Regions from separate parts of the Homo sapiens genome. Here region 1 is linked to region 2. A link means that fine-mapping ties the variant in region 2 to the expression of a gene that starts in the linked region. Tissue or cell type: blood mononuclear cells. Region 2 holds a variant in brackets; the other region holds the start of a gene. All regions are shown on one strand. Distances are between the middles of the regions.

Region 1 (8,000 bases), 50 kb before region 2:
GAAAGAAAGACTATTGCAGGCCAGGCGCAGTGGCTCACACCTGTAATCCTAGCACTTTGGGAGGCCAAAGCAGGTGGATCACCTGAGGTCAGGAGTTCAAGACCAGCCTGGCCAACATGAGGAAACCCCGTCTCTACTAAAAATACAAAAAAATTAGCTGCACATGGCGGCTGGTACCTGTAATCCCAGCTACTCAGGAGGCTGAGGCAGGAGAATCACTTGCACCCGGGAGGCGAAGGTTGCAGTGAGTGGAGATTGCACCACTGCACTCCAGCCTGGGCAACAAGAGTGAAACAAGAAAGAAAGAGCGAAAGAGAGAGAGAGAGAGAAAGAGAGAAGGAGAGAAGGAGAGGAAGGGAAGAAGGGAGGGAGAAAGAAAGAAAAAATAGAGAAAAAGAGAAGGAAGGAAGGAAAAGAAAGAAAAGAGAAGAGAAAAGAAAAAAAAAGAGAGAAAGACAATTCCAATTCAGAGAATCTGCAAGCAGCTCAAAATCAAACAGAAAAAGATTCTTCTTTTCTAGGGTAAAGGAGGAGCAAGTGGAGATAAGCAGACTCTTGGGAGGGGAAGCTGGACAAGTGAGGGGAAATGACCAGTGGGAGCTGACAGGAAAAGGGTCTTGCTGTGTTCAGTCAATTCCCAGGAGAAGCTGGGCAGGGAAGTGACTTGGCAGGGACACTCCACTTTGTTTGTGCTTGTTCAGGCTTGGGGGCAAGCAGCATTCAGGGATCTGTAGGAAAGAGAGAAGTCTGACCAAAGTTTTGTCAAGCAAAGGGGGTAAGCAATGGGTGTCAGAGACAAGAATAGATGGGGGCAGAGGAATAATAGTGACAAAAATACTTGCTTTAAGAAAAGGTAACATCATGGCTCTCATATTAGTATAAAATAAACACATTTTAAAGATTCCATTTCGGCAGGGTGCAGTGGCTCACACCTGTAATCCCAGCACTTTGGGAGGCAGAGGTGGGCAGATCACCTGAGGTCAGGAGTTCGAGACCAGCCTAGCCAACGTGGAGAAACCCTGTCCCTACTAAAAATACAAAATTAGCCAGGCATGGTGGCAGGCACCTGTAATCCCAACTACTCGGGAGGCTGAGATAGGAGAATCACTTGAACCTGGGAGGTGGAGGTTGTGGTGAGCCGAAATTGTGCCATTGCACTCCAGCCTGGGCCAACAAGAGTGAAACTCCATCTCAAAAAAAAAAAAGAGTCCATTTAACTTGATTAAACGAGGCAATCTGGTGGATGTTATAACTGGTTCAAAGGAGAAACCAAAGCAGCACAATTTACATGACGTGAAGAGTACTGAAATGGAATATGCAACTAGACAAAAAACTGGTCTCTCTACAGGGGGACTGTAGTGCCTCTACTGGACAGAATGCATTTGCATATCTATAGGAAAAATTATTTTCCATTGCTACAGTTATCTACAACTTAGATTACTTACTTAGAGTTACTTAGGTAACTATACATTGCTACAGTTATATACAACTTAGAGTTATAAAATAACTCAAAAACAATGAAAGGGGCTCGTGTGGTGGCTCACACCTGTAATCCCAACACTTTGGGAAGCTGAGGCAGGCGGATCACCTGAGGTCAGGAATTCGAGACCAGCCTGGCCAACACGGTGAAACCCCATCTCTACAAAAAATATAGAAAATTAGCCAGATGTGGTGGTGTGCACCTGTAATCCCAGCTACGTTGGAGGCTGAGGCAGGAGAATCGCTGGAACCCGGGAGGCAGAAGATGCAGTTAGCTGAGATCGTCAAGATCCTGTCACTGCACTCCAGCCTGGGTGACAGGGTGCTACATCTCAAGAAAAACAAAAACAACAACAACAACAACAAAAACAATGAAAGGCTAGACCCAGATCTTCTGGAAGGAGATGCTCTAAACCAGGGTTTCTCAGCCTCTACATGACTGATGTCTTGGACTAGATCATGTTTTGGGTGGAGAATGTAAACCAAAAATAAAATTCTAAGCCTCCCCCTCCCCTACCCCCGCCAACCATCTAAATGGATGGTTCCTCCTTAGCCGAGGCTCTTAAAATTTTAACCTGAAATTTTCAGGCCATGAAGGAAAGGCAAGGTCGGACATGCTTCATTATACCTCTCCAGCGTGAACATCAACCAGAGTTTAGGTCTGATAAGAAACATTTTACTGCCTGTTCACTCTGAAGCCTGCTAGCTAAAAGCTTCATCTATGTGATAAAACTTTTGTCTCCACAACCTCTTATCGCAACCCAAACATTCCTTTCTATTGATCCTGGGCCTTTAGACAAACTCAACCAATTGTCAACCAGAAAATGTTTAAATATTTACCTATATCCTGGAAGCCACCCCCACTACCCACCCACCACCCCCCGCCACTTTGAGTTGTCCCGCCTTTCTGAACCAAACCAATGTATTTCTTAAATGTACTTGACTGATGGCTCTTGCCTCCCTAACATGTATAAAACCAAGCTGCACCCCAACCACCTCGGGCACATGTCCTCAGGACTTCCTGTGTCACAGGTGTGCATCTTCAACCATGGCAAAAGAAACTTTCTAAATTAAATGAGACCTGTTTCAGATTTTCTGGGTTCACAAGAGCTATCTTGGACATTGGAAGATGTTCAGCGGCATCCCTGGCTTCTACTTAGTAAAGGCCAGTAGCACCTCATCTCCTAGCTGTGACCATAAAAACTATCTCCAGACATTCCCAAATGTCTCCTGGGGTGGGTAGGGGACAAAACTGCCCCCAGTTGAGAACCACTGCTGTAGACCATGCACAGTTTTCCAGTGAAACCCAAATTCTTCCCTACTACTGTAGAGAAGAAGAGGAGGTAATTTCTGCCCATCTGCATTTCTTGGCACGCACCCATGTCTCTGTGTGTGAGATGAGAATCACACCCTAGCTCCACAACAGAGTGGTCACAGTAGCCAACACAGGCAGTATTCTAAATGCTCTCTCCCTATAGTAACCCAACTAATCCTGCCAGTTAAATATGAGTTTCAGGTAAACAATGAATCATATTTTCTTTTAGAATAAGTATGTATGCCCATGCAATATTTGGGCCCTACATATACTTTAAAAGTATCTGTTGTTTATCTGAAATTCAAATTAAACATTTGGGAGGGTTGTTGTTTTATTGGCCAAATCATTTTATTTTATTTTATTTTTGATATGGAGTTTCGCTTTGTCACCCAGGCTGGAGCGCAGTGGCGCGATCTCGTCTCACTGCAACTTCTCCCTCCTGGGTTCAAGCGTTTCTCCTGTCTCAGCCTCCCGAGTAACTGAGATCACAGGTGCCTGCCACGACGTATTTTTAGTAGAGACGGAATTTCACCATGTTGACCAGGCTGGTCTCGAACTCCTGACCCCAGGTGATCCGCCTGCCTCCGGCCTCCCAAAGTGTTGGGATTACAGGTGTGAACTACCGCACCCAGCCTTATTGGCCAAATCTGACAACCCTATCTATAATCAAATAAACAGCTGAGCAGTAGTAATTGCAGCATTGTGATTGCAATAGGCCTCCGGTGGCTTAGAGTCCCTGTTCTGCCTGTGACTGTTGTGCCACATTGGGGACGTCATTTAGCGTCTCCGAGGCTCAGTTTTCTCATCTGTAAAATGGGGACAATATCAGCGCCTTCTTCAGAGTCGCTGGGAGGATTAAATGAGATGATGTATGCAGAGCCGTTAAGACGCTGTTTGGCACAAAGTTCAGGGCAGCTGGTTTAGTTTCCTCGACTTCACTACCTGACCCTCTGCTAACTCCCCGGGTGTTTTCCGGACGGCCACAACTATCCTAGCCTTCTTCCCTATGGGCTGCAAAGGTGGCCTCGGGTTCCGGTGGGAGCCCCAACTCTGGACCGCGATTCGCGAGCCTCCCCGGCGCCGGGCCGCGCCATCCCGGGAGCTGTCCGCAGATGGCAGCACCGGCCCCGGGTCGCGGCGTTCCCGGCGCTCGGCAGGCCGCAGGATGGCCTGGTCCCGGGCCGGGAGCCCAGCAGGCCGGGAGCGGCTGAGGCCACACCCCGCGGGCCGGGCCGCTTCCCTCCGGTGAATCATCGCTCGCAGCGGCGGCGCCCGCAGTGGCCGCAGCAGCGCGCCGGGCCCTGGCCGCGCCCCAGCCGAGCGCAGCGCGGAGTCGCCCCGACCTTTCTCTGCGCAGTACGGCCGCCGGGACCGCAGCATGGCGGGCATCGCGGCCAAGCTGGCGAAGGACCGGGAGGCGGCCGAGGGGCTGGGCTCCCACGACAGGGCCATCAAGTACCTCAACCAGGACTACGAGGCGCTGCGGAACGAGTGCCTGGAGGCCGGGACGCTCTTCCAGGACCCGTCCTTCCCGGCCATCCCCTCGGCCCTGGGCTTCAAGGAGTTGGGGCCCTACTCCAGCAAAACCCGGGGCATCGAGTGGAAGCGCCCCACGGTAGGAAGCGCGCGGCAGGACGCGGGCAGGGCGGGGTGCCGGGCAGGGCGGGGTGCAGGCCGGCCCGCGGCGCGCTGGGGCGGGGGGCAGCCCGGGTGCTGCAGTGGGGAAGCCGCAAGCCAGGACCTCGCAGTCCTGCGACACCTCCGCGCCGCCAGAGCCCGGGACTCTGTTCGAGCGTGGGGGGACTCCCGGGGCCTTCCCTCTCTTCCACCCACCACGCTTTCCTGGGCGGGTCGAGGCGAATCACTGCCCTCAGATCCCACTAGCAGGCCACTTTAGGACTTCACAAAAACTCAGGGTGATGCAGGAGGCCGGGGTGAAACTTTGATTGGACTCTAGCGGGGAGCTGGAAGGGAAGGGGAATCGGGTCTGCAGGGAAGGGACGGTGAGAGGCAGCATCTACCAGACAAAGTCCGTCTCCAACTGGGGTTCTGTCTGTTCATGGAGGGGGACAGGCCATAGCCTGGTCATTTTGTGACTAAGGATAGTCTCCTGCAGCCCTGGGGTTAGATTTATTTTTCCAAAGGGGAGCCAGCGATACCTCCTCATAACATTGACACTGGTAATTAACCCAGGACACGGAGGTGTCTCATGGTTTCCCTGGCGGGAATCACCCGGGAAACCTCCGGGAGCCCTCCAGACCCCCTTATCCCGTCCCCCAGGGTCTCTGACCTCCCGGCCCTGGGACAACTTGTGCTCCCCAATCTACTTGTCCATTCTGTTTCTTGGGGAACCCCTGAGGCTCCTCCTCCTTTGGGACACTTCCCCAGGCTTCCCCTACCACGCCTAGGAAAGCCTGCCCTGAAGTCCAACTTCTAGATTCCTGTTGTGAGAACAAGGCTTCCAGCTCTGCTTCCACACCCAGCAGCCTCCCAGGTCACCTTCTGTTACCCTAAATCCAGCCCATAGGTAGCAAGGGCTGCAGGAAGCGCCCTAGCCCAGACTCAGAGCACTTGGGTTCTTCTTCTTGCTAACCTGCTGGTGACCTTGAACGAGCCATTTAACCTCTCTGTGCCTCCATGTCTTCATCTAAAAGAAAACATGCTGCCTAAATATTTTCTCTCTTTTGTGGCCCACTAGGCCCTGCCGTCATGGCCTCCTTTCAGTCTCTCAAAGAGCCGGTTCTTTCCTGCATGAGGCCTTCTCACCAGCAAGGCACGCTGTTACCTGGAGTGTGGCTCACTCTCATTCTTCCCAACTTAGTCACATGTTCCCTTCCTAAAGAGGTCTTTTCTGACCCTTCTTAGCAGCCACCTCCCCACCTTGTTTTTCTCTGTCACCCCACTCATTTCCTTCATAGCATTGTCACAGTTTAGAATATAATCACATGTATTTGTTCTTCCTACTGAACTGCAGGAATCATGTGTATATTATTTACCAGTATATCCCCAGTGCCTGACACATAACCATGCCTTTCACAGTATTCATTCATTCATTCATTCATTCATTTACTCACTCATTTGACAACACTGATTGAGCACCTGTTACATGCCAGGCACTGTCCTGAGAGCTCAGGAGATACACCAGTGAACACAAAAGAAGTGACTGTTTGTAGAATATGGATGCAGGATTGTAATGTGCCTCAAATGAAATTATGGTTGTGAAAGTGATACGCTGACCTGACTCAGTGCCTCACACCTGTAATCCCAGCACTATGGGAGGCCAAGGTGGGAGGATCGCTTGAGCCAGGAGTTCAAGACCAGCCTGGGCAACACAGTAAGACTTGTCTCTATAAAAAAGTAAAAAAAAAAAAAAAAAAAGTGAAACACAAACCAAGAGAATGTGTTCACTTTACATTTGCATGGCACTTTACAGTTTACATAGTGAGTTCACATACTCATTCACTTATTCTTTCATTCATTCAGTAAGCATTTCTCGAATACCTACTATATGCTGGGCACAATGCATATGGTTTCTGCTTCTGAAGACTTACTTCTGAGGCTAGTGAGGGGACAGAGACAGGTCCCCCAACAGTTGGAAATGCCTGTGGGACTTCCAGATGAGGATGTAGAGGTCTAGAGATGATCTAGCGCCACTGCTTAGGGCAGGCGGGCTGTGCACTGCACAACTAAGGAAGAGTGTGACTTTTACGATCCCCATTTGCCAGTTGAAGAAATTGAGGCTTGGGAAGGTTAAATACTTGCTCAGAGTCAAGTGGATATAGGGCATAGATCCAGGACTGTGTGTAGTCTGTGCATGTTGAGCCTACCCCTTATGGCTGCGCTCTCTGCCTCCTTCCTACCTTCTCAAATGCTGCTGAGGTCAGGCAAGGGGAGCACAGTTGTTTCCGCTGGATTTGAACACTAGCAAGTCATTGGTGAGTTTAGCAGAGCAATTTCAATGGAAAGGTGAGAGTAGAAGCCAGATTGTTGTAGACTCCAGAGTAAAGGAACTGGAAATTAAGAACATGATCAACTTATTTAAGAAGGACCCCCGGGAAGAGAGGAGAACTGATAGGTAGAGTAGGACCTGGACTTTGAGAGCCTGTGTTTTTTTCATATGAGAACAACTTGAATGTGTCATATGTTGAATCACCAGGAAGAAGGGATTAAAGATAAAGGCAGGGAGGGGGCAGTGAAACAGGATCCCTGAGGAAGTGAGAATACGGGTTGTGGGCAGGGGAGGGGAGCAGGTTAGCCTTGCAGCAGGAGGAGCTGCTCTTCCTCGGAGAGAGGATTTCACAACACTGGCAAGAGTGGCTCCAGTGCCTGGAGCGGGGATTAAAGCAGTAAGTCCAGTGGGGTCCAAGGGCCATGCAGGGGTACAGTGAGGAGAAAGCAGGTGTGATCCGGGTGGCACATCAGATCCTTCCAGCAACCAGTCTGTTAGGAGCAAGGGCAGATGTTGTGAGCCCCTATGTTTCCCCCAAGAAAATCAAACCTCTGAGAGGTTTCTCACTTGCTTATCTTCAGCTGGCCGAACTCAGCCTCAAACCCATATGTCCTGTCTCCAAGTTCAGTGACTGTTATCATCAACTTCTTCAACAGTAATAATAATAGATCACATTTATGGAGTGCTTGCCAGGGCATGTTTACATCATTATCTCATTTAACACTCAGAACAATCCTCTGTGGTGGGTGTTTTCATCGTTCCCATTTTGCAGGTGAAAAAACTGAGACTTCAAAAGGTTAAGTGACTTCCCAGGGTCCTACGACCTACATAATAAGTGGCAGAGCCAGGATTCAAACCTAGGTTATCAGAATAATGCAGCAAAGCCCAAACCCTCAGCCCCTTTTCACTGACTGGTAAGACCCATATTTAATTCGATGCCCTACATGCCGTGCACAAGTTTCAGTTTTCTGAAGCATCGCTTAGATGCTTAGGTGTTTAGCACCACTCTGAACTCTGACTTTTCTAGAGAGGCTGCTAAAGGCATTAGAAAGTTTCTGAAGTATAATGGAAAAACCCTGCTGGAGTAAGTGCCTGGCACACTCAGGATTATCAGTGTGATTCTTTATAATAAACAGGCTCCCAGCACCAAGCCCAATCTATTCCATCAGCTGGATAAGAGCTCTCTGGCAGGCCTTGGGCCAAGCTGGCTTCCTTTGCCTCAGCAGAAGAGCATTCTGATTCTCTCTGCCATCCCCA
Region 2 (8,260 bases):
TGAAGTGCAGTGGCATGATCTCGACTCACTGCAACCTCTACCTCCTGGGTTCAAGTGATTCTCCTGCTTCAGCCTCCCCAGTAGCTGGGACTACAGGCACGCACCAGGATGCCAGGCCAATTTTTGTATTTTTAGTAGAGACGGGGTTTCACCATGGTGGCCAGGCTGGTCTTGAACTCCTGACCTCAGGTGATCCACCCCCTTCAGCCTCCCAAAGTGCTAGGATTACAGGTGTAGCCACCGTGCCTGGCTGCATTTCAGTTTATTTTTCAGTAAAACTGGTCAACCATCCACCTCACTGCACTACCGTGGAATGACTTAAATTTTGCGAGAGCATTTGGGCCCACAGTCACCGCTTGCTGAAGCAGATGGGATGCCTGGTCCAAGGTCACGATTATTAAAGTAGACACACGGGGCACTTTGACCCACCTGTAGTACATTTCTTTCACAGCAAGGCAGTGCAACCGGTAGCACATCGGGCTCTTTTAGATGCTGCTCCAGCCTTGGTCCGGTGGATCATGCTTGGTTTAGAAGCTGGGTTGTCTTTCTCCTGCCCCCAGTCCTGTCTTTGCTTTTATAGTGCATCATACACCACGTAGAACCGAGCCAGGTTCCTGCCATGTGGACGCTGTTCCTGCCTGAGAGTCTCTTAGAGGAAGGCTGGGAACACTGTGGAAAGACTGGGCATCTCTGCAGGCGGAGCTGAATGGATGTGAAACCCCTGTGGGCATGTGCTTCCGAGTTCCTCAGCAGGCATTTGTGTTTTTTGGTAGAAAGTTTGCTTTTTGTTTTTTTTTTTTTTAAGACAAGGTCTCATTCTGTCACCCAGGCTAGAGTACAGTGGTGTGATCATAGCTCACTGCCGTCCTTGAACTCTCAGACTCACGTGAGCCTCCTACCTCAGCCTCCTGAGTAGCTGAGACTACAGGCGCTTGCCGCCACCCCTGGCTAATATTTTTATTTTTTGCAGAGACAGGGGTCTCACTACATTGCCCAGGCTGGTCTCAAACTCCTGGCCTCGAGCAATCCTCTCACAGCCTCCCAAAGTGCTGGTATTACAGGCGTGAGCCACCACACCTAACAAAAGTTTGCTTTTTATCTAAAATGACCCAGGCATTGTCACTGTACTGCTATTTTTTTAAAAAAATTTTGTTGTTTTGTTGTTGTTGTCGTCGTTATATAGATGAGGGCTTCCTGTGTTGCCCAGGCTGGTTTCTGACGCCTGGCCTCGCCTCCTTATACACCAGGACAGCAGGACTGAGCCACCACACTACCCAACTGCTTTTATCTCAGTGAATGAAAATGATACTTGCCTGGAGGCTTCCCCTCATCTACCCCCATGTTTCTCTATTTATTCCTCAGTTAAGTGGGCAGACCAACATCCACCTCAGCAAAAACTTCTTCCTGACGAATCGCGCCAGGGAGCGCTCAGACACCTTCATCAACCTCCGGGAGGTGCTCAACCGCTTCAAGCTGCCGCCAGGAGAGTACATTCTCGTGCCTTCCACCTTCGAACCCAACAAGGATGGGGATTTCTGCATCCGGGTCTTTTCTGAAAAGAAAGCTGACTACCAGTAGGCGGTTTGGTCCCTTCCTCTCCCCACCCTTCCCTGTCCCTCCCCACTGGTCTGTTCCTCGGCCCCTAGAGGGCTCTTTCATCCTCTGAATGTCAGTTACTTTTTCTGTAACACCTGCCCACCTCGAAGGACTAGTGTGGGGATTTGATGGATTGAGGAAGTTCTAGTGTTATAGTAAGGTAAACAATGGAAAAAGCCACTGTGGATATTTTTGGTTGGAAAGGGGTGGCTGTACAGTGAATTGCAGGGTCTAATTTCATAAGCGTGTCTCTGAATTCTCAAGTTGGTACTTTAATGTTAAACTACGAATCCAGTCTCGTCATTTGAAGAAAGCTGAGCAGTGCTGGTGTAATCCTTGATTTTCCAGGCCACCTGGCCTAGCAGAGCCACCAAGGGTGTAAGGTGGGAACCATCTCAACGGTTCCCACCTCCAGAACCTCTCCCTATTATAGTTGTCATGTCACCAGCTCTCTCTCCCCTTCCTCATGGGATCCCACGTTTGGGAACCCTTTGTGGCTGACATCACCATTTCCTGCCACTGTCCAGGTGGCCTCAATTCACAATGGCTTCTGCCACTTTGACTTCTGCCTCAACCATGTATGTTCAGCTGGGCACTTGATTGGCAAAGGCAGAATCTACCCTGGGTGATTTAAGCTAAAGGGAATTCATCGAAAGGCCATTGGAGACTCCAGAACTGATGGGAGGTAGGGGGTCAGGCTAGGAAGAACAGGAGCCAAGGATGTGTTGGAGGACCAGGGTGTGAGATGACCCCTTGGACTCTGGGTCATGTGCTGAGGTCTAAAGATCTTGTGGAGTGTGTCTGAGGTGCTGGGCTTGGGTCAGCCACCTGGCCTGCTGGTTCCTGTAGAGGAAGAGCCAATGGGAGGTAGAGGCAGGGAACTGCCCTTGCCCCAAGATAATGCATGATGCAGAAATAATTTCCCATGGCGAAGGGAGACAAAGCAATGCCAGGCAGCTGCATACCAATGAATGCCACCATAGCACGGCTGTAGCCCCCCTGCCACTGACAGGCTGTCTTCATTTGCTAAAGCCTACCATGGGGGAAGGGACCTTTCCTCTCAGCTCTGAGGATGCTTAGAGGAAGACTGGTGTGTTCAGTTTAGTCCTCACTGACAAGAAAATAGGAGCATGACCTGGTGGCATTAGAATAACAGTGTCCTTTGTCAAACTCATTACTCTCCCTGCCAGCCACAAGTCACTCTCCCAGGGAAGCCTCAACCCCTCAACTCTCTCTAGGGTGAGCTCCCTACCCCAAGAGGACACCCCACCTCTCAAAGGTTTCTGACTTCCTTGTCCCAAAATATTAATCCTTCTGCTCCAGATTCCAATGATCAGCACCAAGAGGTCCCCTTTTCCTTCTGCCAGGCATTGGCCCTGCTGATAGGACTCTTGGTCACTTAGTTAAAATCACAGTGGCCCAAGGAAGAACCTCCTGAGCTTGATTACCCTCACTATGGAGCAGAAGGACCTGGCCCTGGACACAGGGGCGGTGCACAGTATAAACTAACCACTGCCTGACCTGAGCTTTGGCTGAAATGACACACAGGCCTCTGCACTGCCCACCTCTCCAACCTGAGGCAGAACAAGTAGGCGATGATTTGCACTGCATGATTCTCAGTGTGAAAGTCTATGTTGGCAAAGGATATTTCAAGTGGAACTTAGAAGCTATTCCTTAAGGCTAGGACGAACACCACGCTACACGCGAAGGCTATCCTATTTGATAAAGATCAAAAACTAGCAAACAAAAATCTCCAGCTGCCCACGTTGCTTTGGTCATGACCCTTCCTTCAGATCACTTCTGCCTTTATTTTTGCTGTTTAGGGGATGTGTTATCACAGAAACTTGGAATGCAGAGAAATGTTATCACAGAAACTTGGAATGCAGAAAAATTTTTGCTTTTTAGGGGAGGTGTTATCACAGAAACTTGGAATACAAAGACCTCCCCCCACCGCAGCCCTGCCCCACCCCACCTACCCCCTGCTGGATTTAGCACTGCACTTCCATTTTAGCAGTGATTTCCTTCCTTTTTGCCCTCGCCTGCCTTCCAGTAACACATAATTTCCTTCTATTTCCAGAGCTGTCGATGATGAAATCGAGGCCAATCTTGAAGAGGTATTTGTAACTCTTTGAATTTCACCCAC[T/C]CTGTCCTGGACAATCCAGAGAGCAGAGGAGCAAAAAAACTCCAAGAGTTTTTGGACTTCACGAACAAAGCCTGAAACTAAGGATAAAGCCGGGTACTGGGAATCCAAGAGTCGACTACCTGCATCAGCTCTGGCCTCTGTGCTGGGGGCATGGGCCAGTCCCTTGCCTATTGGGCTGTGCTAGCCACTGTCAAAATCCATCCACAACATTCCAGCTAGTCTTTATTCTTCTGAGTCCCCACTAGAATAGATCCTAAAAGGCCATTTTAATTGGATGCTAGAGAAGATACCTCTGTGAGAAATTAGAATATTACTCCTTCCCACATAATTTACATTCCTTCTTGTGTTTTAATTAGAAAAAAAAAACCTTATATTAATTCTTCACACTATACCTGATCTTAACCCAAATCACCGTAGAATTTGGGCCCCAGGGAGGGGTAGAGAAGGGGAGTGGGAGGTGGCTGCCATGGAAGGGCGGGCAGACACTTGGTGTCATGCCTCGCTCTGATGCATTCTCATGTCTCTGCCTCACCTTCCAGTTCGACATCAGCGAGGATGACATTGATGATGGATTCAGGAGACTGTTTGCCCAGTTGGCAGGAGAGGTAAATGTTCCCAAAAACGATGTTATGCACTCTGGTTGATGCAAAGGAAGAGACAGTGTGTGTCCCCAAGGGGACTTTAGTTTAAAGGGGAGAGGAAACAAACTGAACAAAAGCAAAGAGAAATTGCAAATGGCACTTGGGTTCCAGCTCAGCCCTCTTGCGTGTGTCCTCCCTAAGACCTCCGCATGCTGCCGGGGGCTTCCATTTGCATGGTCAGCCCTGACTCTGTGTTCCTCCTTCCTTAGGATTCCTGGGCTCACCTTGTGACTGTTTTATTTTCTCTGTTCTACACCAATTGAGGCATGAAACTTGGCCCCTTATCCTTGATTTCCACAAAGGATTTGGAGAGATGGAAGGGTTTCAAGTCTCAAGAATGCAGGCCACCTGCAACAGAGTGTTTGAATTAGGCTTTTCTGTTCTCTTTTCTTTTTTCTTTTTTTCTTTTTAGAGACAGGGTCTCTCTCTGTCACCCAGGCTGGAGTGCAGTGGCATGATCATAGCTCACTGCAGCCTCCACTTCCTGGGCTCAAGAGATCTTGCCACCTTAGTCTCCCAAGTAGCTGGGACTATAGGTGCACACCACCATGTCTAGCTAATTTTTATTTTATTTTTATTTTTGTAGAGATGGAGTTTTGCCATGTTGCCCAGGCTGCTCTGGAACTCCTGGGCTCAACAATCCTCCAACCTTGGTCTGCCAAAGTGTTGGGATTACAGATGCATACCACCATGCCCAGCTAATTTTTAAATTTTTTTTAGAGACAGGGTCTCACTTTGTTGTCCAGGCTGGTCTTAAACCCCTGAGCTCAAGCAGTCCTCCCACCTCAGCCTCCCAAAGTGCTGGAATTACGGGTGTGAGCCACCATACCTGGCCACTTCCCTGTTCTTAAAAAAATCCCTCAGCCATTTAGTCCCATCACAAAGTTATTTAGCCCTCTTTCTTCCCAACAACTCCAAAAAAAAAAAAAAAGTCCTCTTTCTTCACTATGTGGAGGAACTTTCCAATCATTGAGCTCATCTGGTACTCCCTTCGCTGACCTAAAGACCCATCAAAGTACTAAGCCAGGCATCGTCTGCTCTGCGCCTCCACCGGCCTCTCACCCTCTGCTCCCTCCCAGATTCCCAAGGAAAGGGGCCATGAGAGTCTTCTTTCCCCTCTGATTGAATCCCACACATACACACCCCAAAAGGCAAACATGACTGCAATCAATCTTGGTTTTAAACAAAGGAGTTTATCCATGAGTTACACAAATATGTGTAAGTGGATAGAGACATCTGAGCCCATGAGGGGCCCTGGCATGATGGGCATAGAGGAGGGCCGGCTAGGTCTTGGAGACAGCTGGTTTTCACCAGTTTTACAGGAAGTCTGAGCTTTGAGTTTTAAAGAATGAAGAAAACATGCCAGATAAGAGGAATGGTATAAGAGAATTAAGAAAGACCACAAACATGGGTAGAGGGGAGTATTTATTATTTATATTCTCTACAGCAAAGAAATGGTGAGTGAACTCTCCCTACTGCATCCGTACATTAAAACACCGTATCTAGGCTGGGCACAGTGGCTCACACCTGTAATCCCAGCACTTTGGGAGGCTGAGGCTGGAGGATCGTTTGAGCCTAGGAGTTTGAGGTTTCAGTGAGCTAGGATCATTCCACTGCAGTCCAGCCCAGCCTGGGTGTTCTAAAAAGAACCAAACCAAAAACACTGTATCTAAAATCCAGAATGGGGCAGTACTACTCAAAGTGTGGTCTGGGGACAGCAGCCCCAACATGGCTCGGGGGCTTGTTAGAAATGCACATTCATAGGCCCCACCGCAGGCCTACCTAATGCACTGGTGTCCTGCCCTGTGCTCATCCAGCTCCCACGGGGGGCCAATAACTATGCTCTGGTTATGTGTCCACAGGATGCGGAGATCTCTGCCTTTGAGCTGCAGACCATCCTGAGAAGGGTTCTAGCAAAGCGTGAGTATCCCCTCATTGCAAAACCTCATCCTGCTCTTTCCCCTGTGGATGGGAGGGAACATGGAAATCTTTCCCCCTCCATGTCTGGCTGCTGTGACTAAACCACCACCCTCCATCCCCTCCAAGAAGTGGATGAAGGATTTGTATGATGTGATGAAAAAGAACAAGTGTTTGTAGCATCCACAGATCAAAGATCAAATCCAGGTTTCCACTACATACTAGCTTTGTGTGATCTATTTTTTTAATTTATTTTATTTTATTTTTGAGACAGAGTCTCACTCTGTCGCCCAGGCTGGAGTAAAGTGGCACAATCTCAGCTCACTGCAATCTCTACCTCCCAAATTCAAGCGATTCTCCTGCCTCAGCCTCCCAAGTAGCTGGAATCACAGGCAAGTGCCACCACAGCCAGCTGACTTTTGTATTTTTAGTAAAGACAGGGTTTCACCATATTGGCCAGGCTGGTCTTGAACTCCTGACCTCAAGTGATCCACCTGCCTTGGCCTCCCAAAATGCTGGGATTACAGGCATGCACTACCACATCCAGCTAATTTTTGTATTTTCCTAGAGATGGGGTTTCTCCATGTTGGCCAGGCTGGTCTTGAACCCCTGGCCTCAAGTGATCTGCCCACCTCGGCCTCCCAAAGTGCTGGGATTACAGGTGTGAGCCACCGTGCCCGGCCACATCTTGTAACTAACTATTTCTTAAGCAAAAAAATGTCAGAGGATTGATTGTTCAACCCCTTACTGTGGATCACCAGCAGGGAGGAGCGGGAAACACAACACAGAGACATTTTTTCCCCTCAAATTATCAAAAGAATCACGCTGCATTTGTTAAGAGAGCAACTGGCAATCCAGGAAGCAGAGTTTTGAACATATCAGAAGTTAGGAATCTGCATCAGAGACAAATGCAGTCATGGTTGTTTGCTGCATACCAGCCCTAGGGATCATCTCGAGAAGCCTCATGGACTTCAAGGGACATCATTCCCTCTGACAAGATGGCCTCTAGCCTAACTCCATGAGATAAAATAAATCTGCCTTTCAGAGCCAAAGAAGAGTCCAGGGCCAGCTGGGTCTTCCCTCCCAGTGTGAACCAAGAGGGCTGGGCCAGTCAGGTTACGGTCAGTCCAGTGCAGGGCCTCCCCAGAGGAGACCCAGTCTGCACCCGCCCTCCTCTAATTTTCAGGGAAGGCAAGAAGATTGTGTTTACCCTGGAGGCCACCAGGCACAAGTGAGGTCACAGAGCTCTTCAGATATGCAGTCCTCATGAGCTGAGGAGACTAAAGCCTCATTGTTTCTGCACAGATGGAGGGTGGGGCTGGGAGGTGGGGAAGAAGCGGGCCTTGCCTGGATTCAGCCCGCTCCTTGCTGGGGGAGCAGCATTCGCTCCGCGCGTGCCTCTGAGCTTACTACCCTACCCCTAGCTGCCTGCTGACTCCAGCCTTCTGGAGGGCTCCACACCAGAGTCTGCATGCACAGCTGCTGGGCCAGAGCCTTATGACCATCTAAGGGGTTGGTGCCCAGAGTGGCAGCTTTGAGGCAGGTCAGGCTCTAACCTCTTTCGGGGACATAACAAAAAGGCTGGGCTTTTCGTGAAGTCTGTGGGGAGCCAGGTTCACATTGGTGACTAGGGAGGGTCTCATGCCACCTGCCAAACACCAAGTGGACAGGACTCACTTAGTGCAGCACAAATAGCTCGTGGATCGATCCCAGTTCCTCAGGTTTCTCAGTCAGCTGGGGACACAGTCCATAAATGTCTGCAGATGGACAGTTCAAGTAAACCTCTTTCTCTCACGGGTCATAGCCTAGAATTAACACACCTGCTCTCTGTTTTCTTTTTCCCTGCCCAACAACTACAGGTGACTTTATATCCTGTGGGCACCTAAGGCCCAACCATTGATCATTCTGTTATTTATTTGTTCAAAAAGCACTTTTTAAAGCCCTGTTTGCCCACGGCAAATAT

Evidence for each region. PIP is the estimated chance that this variant, and not a neighbour inherited with it, causes the effect.
Region 1: CAPN2 starts here. The variant in region 2 is fine-mapped to the expression of CAPN2 in blood mononuclear cells (TOPMed, PIP above 0.99). The same link has a PIP of 0.9 or more in T cells, lung, monocytes and whole blood.

What each region holds. Positions count from the first base shown.
Region 1 is chr1:223,708,469-223,716,468 of GRCh38, forward strand. CAPN2 (calpain 2) reads left to right here and starts at 4,071. Exons shown (of 21, transcript NM_001748.5): 1 at 4,071-4,409. The coding sequence starts at 4,173. RefSeq lists enhancers at 3,668-3,717, 3,757-4,708 and silencers at 3,818-4,207, 4,418-4,537.
Region 2 is chr1:223,757,908-223,766,167 of GRCh38, forward strand. It overlaps CAPN2 (calpain 2), which reads left to right. Exons shown (of 21, transcript NM_001748.5): 12 at 1,363-1,574; 13 at 3,674-3,710; 14 at 4,279-4,344; 15 at 6,243-6,300. Among named protein-coding and RNA genes, the nearest start is that of CAPN2, 49 kb to the left of the region's middle. The variant T/C (reference allele first, on the strand shown) is at 3,740.